Linked DNA regions of Homo sapiens. The protein of the gene in region 1 purifies or fractionates together with the protein of each later gene. This does not show direct contact. Each region holds a gene or a part of one and is shown in the gene's direction. Other genes may lie near its edges.

Region 1 (5,646 bases):
TAAAAAAGTGGAATAGTATAATGAGCCTTTTATACCCATCACCTGCATTCCACGATTATCGAGTAACAGCCAATCTTGTTCTTCTCAATTCACTTTCTCCTTTCCTGTACTAATTTGAAGCACATCCCAGACATTATATTGTTTCATATTTCAGTTTGCATCTCTAAAAGATAATGATTTTTCTTTTTAATAATAATAAATATTGATCAGGCTTACACCTGTAATCCCAGTGCTTTGGGAGGCTGAGGCAGGCAGATCACTTGAGCCCTGGAGTTCAAGACCAGCCTGGGCAACATGGTGAAACCCCATCTCTACAAAAAATTAGCCAGGCATGGTGGCTTGCACCTGTAGTCTCAGCTACTCAGGAGGCTGAGGTAGGAGGATTTCATGAGCCTGGGAGGTTGAGGCTGCAGTGAGCTATGATCACGCCACTGCACTCCAGTCTAGGTGATAAAGTGAGACCCTGTCTCAAAAAAAAAAATCTAATAAAGAGGACAGCAAGCAAAATTATCTTGTAATGAATAAATAAAATAAACATCACTTAGAACACATTCTCATATTTTCTTCCCTTCAGTGGTACAAAAAATTGAGCTGATATTTCATGTGGGTAAATGAATGAATAAACTAAACTCTTCATACTACTTTTTTTTTTTTTTTTTTTTTTTTGAGACACAGTCTCGCTGTGTCACCCAGGCTGGAGTGCAGTGGTGCGATCTCGGCTCACTGTAAGCTCCGCCTCCCGGGTTCACACCATTCTCCTGCCTCAGCCTCCTAAGTAGCTGGGACTACACGCGCCTGTCACCACGCCCGGCTAATTTTTTCCATTTTTAATAGGGACAGGGTTTCACCGTGTTAGCCAGGATAGTCTCGATCTCCTAACCTCGTGATCCGCCTGCCTCGGCCTCCCAAAGAGCCACCGCGCCCGGCCTAACTCTTCAGTCACTATGACTTATGGGTAATTGAGGCTCAGAGGTATATTTGTCTTTTTTCCATATAAATGTCAAGAATGCTAATTATTAATTTTTAGAGAGAGATCTGTAATAAATATTTATTAGTAATATTTCTGTACTTTTTAATGTGAAATTATATTTATAGAAAATACCTCATCAAGGCCAGGCACTGTGGCTCATGCCTATAATCCCAGCACTTTGGAGGCTGAGACAGGCAGATCGCCTGAAGTCAGGAGTTCGAGACCAGCCTGGTCAACATGGTGAAACCCCGTCTCTACTAAAAATACAAAAATTAGCCGGGCATGGTGGCATCTGCCTGTAATCCCAGCTACTCGGGAGGCTGAGGCAGGAGAATCGCTTGAACCCGGGAGGCGGAGGTTGCAGTGAGCTGAGATCGTGCCATTGTACTCCACCCTGGGCTGCAAGAGTGAAACTCCATCTCAAAAAAAAAAAAGAAAGAAAAGAAAAGAAAATACCTCATCAATAAGTGTTAAATGAGTCATGGTGAATTTTGCTCTTGGTATATAAGAAACTGACCTTGAGTCTTGGTATATGAAAAACTGACCTTGACTTTGGGATTCTTCACAGAGGTACCAGATAAGTAAAGTCTCATCAAATAAGAAAAATAAACCTTACATTCAGATACATATTTAGGTATCTTCCTGGTTTAGATGCAAAGAAACAAGGATTCTTTCACAGGACCTGCATCATGTAGAAAAGGTTTTCAGTATGGTTCAACTGGCAGTGACTTTCAGAAGAATATATGATGAATCACAATATATAGTTCCCCCTCTTTACACTAAAGATTATTTTTATTTACCCTGTATGCTGTTTTAGTTGAATGCCATGTAGCAGACTGTTGGTTAATATCATAGAATGAGGTGTGTTAATGAATACAGTTATTTTCACACACACAAAAATCTAATAAAGAGGAAAGAAAGAAGTAATGAATCTTCAGATCTTTAGAAGTCTTAGAAATGTGTGAATGGGTGGAAAGAATGGCCCCGTTTAGTTTTGTAAAGTCTGTAATTATAAAACAGCTCTTCTACATGACCTCATAGACAATCCCGAGTCCCAGACGCTTTGCAGAGAAGCATCCTTGCCTTTCCTTGAGGCGGTGATCAGGACATAGATAGTGGGAAGGATGTGCCTGGGAGGAAGGTCCCAAGACCACGTCTCATCCTGGCATGCCAGTGCCACCCACCTGCCTGTGCCGCAGTTGTTTGTCATTGACTGGGCAAAGCAGATGACCCATGTCTCACTTGCAGGTATTGACTGGGCTCCCAAGAGCGACCGCATTGTCACTTGTGGGGCAGACCGCAATGCCTATGTCTGGAGTCAGAAAGATGGTGTTTGGAAGCCAACCCTGGTGATCCTGAGAATTAATCGCGCAGCTACTTTTGTGAAGTGGTCCCCCCTAGAGAACAAATTTGCTGTGGGAAGTGGAGCACGACTCATTTCTGTTTGTTACTTTGAGTCTGAAAATGACTGGTGAGTGACATCTGAATTTTTTCTATCCCTCTCTATAGAATTTACATTTGCACTGCTGTGTGAGGGCTCACCATAACTCCAGTTTTTCTCATCCGGAGTTGTGTGGTTTTTTCTCTGAAATTCTCGATTCTGTCTGAGCATTTTCCCTTCTCATGTGCATGTTAAGTTAAATCGCACGTTTTTTATATTAACATAGAGCTATTGTGTCCATGTTCTGATCGCCTAACTTGTTTCTTCTGCAAGATGCTATTACTGTTCTCACTCTATACTGCGCAAATTGCTGTTTTCTTACTCTCATTTACAAATAATAACATTGAAAGAGTCTCCGTTCCCTGAGGAATATTTTTTCTTTTTTTTTTTTTTTCACAGGATATCTATGTAGGATTCCTACAGATAACAATGTTCTTTTTTTTTTTTTTTTTTTTTTTTTTTTTGAGACAGAGTCTTACTCTGTTGCCCAGGCTGGATGGAGCGCAGTGACACGATCATGGCTCACTGCAACGTCCGCCCCCTGGTTCAAGCAATTCTCCTGCCTCAGCCTCCTGAGTAGCTGGGATTACAGTCACCTGCCATCGTGCCCGGCTAATTTTTGTAGTTTTAGTAGAGACAAGGTTTCACCATCTTGGCCAGGCTGGTCATGAACTCCTGACCTCATGATCCACCGCCTCGGCCTCCCAAAGTGCTGGGATTACAGGCGTGAGCCACCACGCCTGGTCAATGTTCCTTCTTTAAAGCTTATTTGCCAACCAAATCTGTGTCTTGGTGTAATATTTTACTTGTTTAAACTGTTGAAGTCAAAACTCACCAGAATCTTAGAAGTCTAATCAGCTATTGCACATTTTTTAAATTACTTCTTGCTGACCCAGTCAAAACACAGGTTTATTTTATGGCCAAAACTTATTTTAACTACTCCTTCCTGTTTGTTTTGATAAGGAAACAATTATTCTCCAGCCTGGCCAAGATGGTGAAACCCCATCTCTACTAAAAATACAAAAATTAGCCAGGCACAGTGGCAGGTACCTGTAATCCCACCTACTTGGGAGGAAGCAGGAGAATTACTTGAACTCGGAGGGCAGAGGTTGCAGTGAGCCAAGATCGTGCCACTGCACTCCAGCCTGGGCGGCAAAGTGAGATTCTATCTCAAAAAAAAAAAAAATTATTTTTCTGTGTGGCATGTGTTCAGCATGACTGGTAAATATCCTTCAACGTAAAGTTGTCATTTACTACTAAACTGGCAGTGTTTGTGTTTCTACTAAAAATAGCAGAGTATACATGACTCTTTGTAGCTGTTTTGTTATTTGTATTCTGCTGAAATTGAAAGAAGGGGATTATCATGTTACCTTTGTAATTTAGTAAAACTTCAGAAATTTTATTCTTCAAAAAGAGATTGGGAATTTGCGGTAAAATTGAGTTATGGGCCAGGTACAGTGGCTCATGCCTGTAACCCCAGCACTTTGGGAGGCCGAGGCAGGTGGATCACCTGAGGTCAGGAGTTCGAGACCAGCCTGACCAACACGGATAAACCCTGTCTCTACTAAAAATACAAAAAAATTAACGGGGTGTGGTGGTGCATGCCTGTAATCCCAGCTACCTGGGAGGCTGAGGCAGGAGAATCTCTTGAACCCAGTAGGCAGAGGTTGCGGTGAGCCGAGATCACGCCATTGCACTCCAGCCTGGGCATCAAGAGTGAAACTCCGTCTCAAAAAAAAAAAAAAAAATTGAGTTACGAATTTGAAACATACATTTTTCTTTCAAATGTGAAATCAAGGCTAACAAAATGTTACCTGCTAGAAACTATTTGGAAGTTTCATTGTAATGAGATAGGAAACTAACTTCATTAATATTCTCTCAAGGCTAAACTTTATGTCAGCTGGTACTCCTTGCAATCTTACAAATTTCTACAGGAAACTTTTCTTCCAAGTTAAGCTTCAACCTCAGTAATTGTTTACATTTTTATTCGTTGAGAATTAGTGTCAAGTATAGGTAAATTGGACTTTATTATGGTACAAGGTATTGTCTTTGAACAAGCTGTATGTTTAGGGCAGTTTCTCAGCTGTAGAACAATTATTTCATATTTCATAGGAGTACTTTAAAACAACTTCTCAGAAGTTTATAATTCAGCCATATGAACTAATTATTTTGCTTGCCATCTTTTCCTTAATTAAAAAAATTACATTATAAAGGCCAGGCACGGTAGCTCACGCCTGCAATCCCAGCACTTTGCGAGGCCAAGGCAGGCGGATCACGAAGTCAAGAGTTCGAAACCATCCTGGCCAACATGGAGAAACCCCATCTCTACTAAAAATACAAAATATTAGCCAGGTGTGGTGGTGCATGCCTATAATCCCAGCTACTTGGGAGTCTGAGGCAGGAGAATCGCTTGAACCAGGGAGGTAGAGGTTGCAATGAGCCGAGACCATGCCACTGCACTCCAGCCTGGGCAACAGAGCAAGACTCTGTCTCAAAAAATATGTATACATTATGAAACAATTCGAAATACTGTCTTTTTCTCCTTTTTTAGAGACTTTGTGGGGGATTTTGGTTTTTTATTTTATTTATTTATTTATTTTTTGAGACAGGGTTTCTCTCTGTCACCCAGTCTGGAGTACAGTGGTACAAACACGGCTCACTGCAGTCTCCAACTCCTGGGATCCAGCAGTCTTGCCACTTCAGCCTCCCAAGTAGTTGGGACTACAGGTTTGCACCACCACACCTGGCTAATTTTTTGATTACTTGTGGAGACAGGTTCTCACTTTTCTTGCCCAGGCTGATCTCAAATTCCTGTACTCAAGCAATCCTTCTGCTTTGGTCTTCCAAAGTGCTGGGAGTATAGTTGCAAGCCTCTGCACCTGGCTGTCTTTTTCAGAATGAACTTCTTCAGACAGGATACTAAGAAAGTGATTCTGTAGCCAGGCGTGGTGGCTCATGCCTGTAATCCTAGCACTTTGGGAGGCTAAGGCAGGCAGATCACCTGAGACCAGGAGTTTGAGACCAGCCTGGCCAACATGGTGAAAGCTAATCTCCTCTAAAATTACAAAAATTAGCCGGGCGTGGTGGCGTGAGCCTATAATCCCAGCTATCGGGAGGCTGAGGCACAAGAATTGCTTGAACACAGGAGGCAGAGGTTGCAGTGAGCTGACATTGCGCCACTGCACTCCAGCCTGGATGACAGAGTAAGACTCTGTCTCAAAAAAATAAAAAATAA
Region 2 (3,500 bases), on another chromosome or scaffold:
TGAGTGGTCTCTTCATTATAATAAATGTCTTTATAAATGGTTAGGATTTCATGGTAACTAAAATTGGTGGGTCAGTTTTAAGTTGTATTTATGCAGTTGAGGATTTTTAATCTATTAATTAAACAACTGTTTGAATTTACTTAAAAAAAAAAACTCAGTCAAGATGCTGTGCATTTTGCTAAAGCTGGGCTGGAGAAGTGGGGAGAGATACAAAGATGAGTATAAATGAAGGTTTTCTTTTAGCCTGTCAGAAAAGAGTAACTCTACTGATTGGTTGATTTTGATAGTTATCGGTAGTGTAGTTTTCCTTAGTTTCCTACTAGAACCCAAAGGGTGGCTGATGTCTTAAAAGTCCTAATCTTGTGGCCAGAAATTTATGAGCTTTTATTTACTCTTGGTCATCACTTTGTAATACATGAGAGTATACTCATTATACATTATACCACAATTTCTGTAACTTGGTTTTTGTCACCCCCGCCTTTTTTTTTTTTTTTTTTTTTTAAGAGACGTAGTCTTGCTTTGTTGCCCAGGCTGGAGTGCAGTAGCGTGATCTTGGCTTACTGCAGCCTCTGCCTCCCAGGTTCAAGCAATTCTCCTGCCTCAGCCTCCTGAGTAGCTGGGATTATAGGTGCCTGCCACCACATTTGGCTGGTTTTTATATTTTTAGTAGAGATGGGGTTTTACCATGTTGGTTAGGCTCTTCTTGAACTCCTGATGTCAAGTGATCCTCCCGCCTCAACCCCCCGAAGTGGTTGGGATTACAGGTGTGAGCCACTGTGCCCGGCGACATTTTTGACATTTTTTAAATGACATTTTTGATCAGGATTGTTTTTCATGTTACTTCCATCTTAAAGGCACTTCGCTGTCTAAGCTTCAATTCTTAGTTCTGCTTTTAAGTAGCTTTTTTTATTCCACACAAAAAGCAGAGGCTACTGAATATACAGCCTTCTTGGTGAGGATTATAAAGGGCTTTAGTTTGGGTGGTGATGTCTGTAGTAAGAATAAAAAGTTAAAATAAAAGGTAGCTGATGGTGGTGGTGTATACAGAGATTAGTAGGGTTTCTAAGAAAGAATAATAAAAATTTGTGAAATTGTTTCTATTTTTCTGATTTTTTTCAAAAAAGATAATTGTATTCATGGATTACTTGTGTAACTATTGTTACAATTTTTAAAAATAAAAGAATGATAATTAGGCATGATGAAGATTAAATCTTTTTTTTTTTTTTTTTTTTTGAGATGGAGTTTTTCTCTGTCACCCAGGCTAGAGTGCAGTGGTGCGATCTCGGCTCACTGCAACCCCTGCCTCCTGGATTCAAGCAATTCTTCTGCCTCAGCCTCCTGAGTAGCTGGGATTACAGTAGCCACCATGCCTGGCTAATTTTTTTGTACTTTTAGTAGAGACAGGTTTTCACCATCTTGGCCAGGCTGGTCTCGAACTCCTGACCTTGTGGTGCACCTGCCTCGGCCTCCCAAAGTGTTGGGATTACAGGTGTGAGCCACTGTGCCCGGCTGAAGATTAGATCTTTATGACTAATTGGATTTTTGGGTAAGGGATTCAGAACTTGATAGATGCTTCTTGACTTAAAGTGGGGCTATGTCATAAGTCAAATGAGTTTAATTCTCAGATAAACTCATCCTAAAGTTGAAAAATTGTAAGTTGGGCCACCTGTAATTGGGGACCATCTGTAATTGGGAGAATGCTAGTGACATTGAAATAATTAGTTATCAGTTAGACATAAATATGTACCTTTTGAAAATTTCCCATAGAAAATTTGAGTCATTATTGAAAATACATTTTCAAATTCTTTTGATTCATCAATAAGTTTGTTTGCAAAAGTTAATGACAGTGGCATAGAATTGAGTTTGTAGACCAAATTACATGGCATAGATATGTATTTAGACGAATATGACCTGAAAATGGCCCTTTTCTGACCTAATGGTGGGAATCAACTCTTGTTTGATGTTTCTTAAAAGATTCTACTTTATTAATTCTGCTTGTTTTAGTTACATCCAGAGCATTCCAGTTGTTAATGAAGAACACAGAGGTGATTTTTCCTATATTGGAAATTTGATGACAAAAGAATTCATAGGTCAACAATTGATTCTAATTATTAAGTCTTTGGATACCAGTGAAGAAGGAGGAAGGTATGTCTAAATGTTAACACTCATTCTAATTTGCCCTTCTAATTTCTTATATTGAAATATAGTCCTTTTACAATATAACTAAACATATTTACCCTAGCTCTCTAAAGTGGTATAAAAAGTTTTCTTTTCCCTTCTACATATTTCCATATATACACATACATTTATATTTCTAGTTCAATTTCCTCAGAATAAATCAATGAAATTGCAGTTTTTGGTTAAAAGTTTCTGTTTAGATTTATTAAGGCTAGTAGCATTTTCTAAAAGGTTTAATCATTTCTGGTATTTTGTCATTTTATCATGTTGATTTATTAAAAATCATAGGGTGTTTTATAAAAATTTTTTTTTGTGTGGAATAAGAATATTTGACCTAAAGTCTGTACATACAGATTTTTGTACCTATTATAGTGATAAACCTAAGTGAAAGAACTGAGGCAAATGTAATTAAGTTTGCAGAGTAGGTGAATGTTAGAGATAAAACATGTTTTGTCATAATAATATTTAAATTAGTTCTTTTTGACTGCAGAAAAAAACTGCTGGCTGTTTTACAGGAGATTCTTATTTTACCCACAATCCCAATATCCCTGGTTTCTTTTCTTGTTGAAAGACTACTCCACATCATTATAGATGATAATAAGAGAACACAAATTGTAAGTAATTTTCCTCATTGTTGATAAAGAGGTTTTGGTCAATGACATTGAATACTGTCTTATTTTCTGTTTAGAACTTTTTGTTTTGTCTGTTTTGTTTTAGGTTCGTCTCTTTAATGAGTTTTAAAATTTCTTAAAACCATTATCTATCTCTTACATACACAGAATATTTGAAAAATGTCACCTTCTTCCTCTTAGTGTACCTGTTATTGTTGAATCAGTTTGAAATGGAGCAGGTTTGGTAGGAAGTTACAAGTGGGGATATGGTTTTGTCCATGAGGCACTGGGTGCTAGTGTTTTTGAGAGCTTACTCAAATTGTACATACTAGGGTTTAGAATCTCATCTGACACTTTCTGGCTTTGTGGCTTTGGACAAGTTATTCTGCTGTTTTACTTGTCTGCAAATAAGAATAGCAATGAAATCTACCTTTCATTTTTCAATGAGGTATTGTTCATAAAGGTATTGTTCTGTATTGCTTGATAAATACAGAAATAATTGTTTACTATAATACTATTTCAGTGTTATTTTTTTCTGGCATAGCCAAAAAAGACAGATCTGTATCATTTATTTCATAAAAATCACATAATTTCAGTTGCAGGTTAATTCACAGATCATCTCTTCCATCCTCTCCTTATATATACACCCCTTCTACAACATGCTTAGTTGTTATTCAGCATCTGCTTAAATACTTTCATTTGGGAGGCAGC

The links. Proteins that work in one complex are often made in the same cells at the same time.
Region 2: the proteins of ARPC1A (region 1) and NCAPG purify together in Homo sapiens (affinity purification with mass spectrometry; 3 studies listed by BioGRID and IntAct, with this or other methods). This does not show direct contact.

What each region holds. Positions count from the first base shown.
Region 1 is NC_000007.14:99,342,075-99,347,720, forward strand, and holds part of ARPC1A (actin-related protein 2/3 complex subunit 1A), read left to right. Parts: intron 1-2,218; coding exon 2,219-2,441; intron 2,442-5,646. UniProt on the Homo sapiens protein: Probably functions as a component of the Arp2/3 complex which is involved in regulation of actin polymerization and together with an activating nucleation-promoting factor (NPF) mediates the formation of branched actin networks.
Region 2 is NC_000004.12:17,820,979-17,824,478, forward strand, and holds part of NCAPG (condensin complex subunit 3), read left to right. Parts: intron 1-2,004; coding exon 2,005-2,145; intron 2,146-2,668; coding exon 2,669-2,792; intron 2,793-3,500. UniProt on the Homo sapiens protein: Regulatory subunit of the condensin complex, a complex required for conversion of interphase chromatin into mitotic-like condense chromosomes.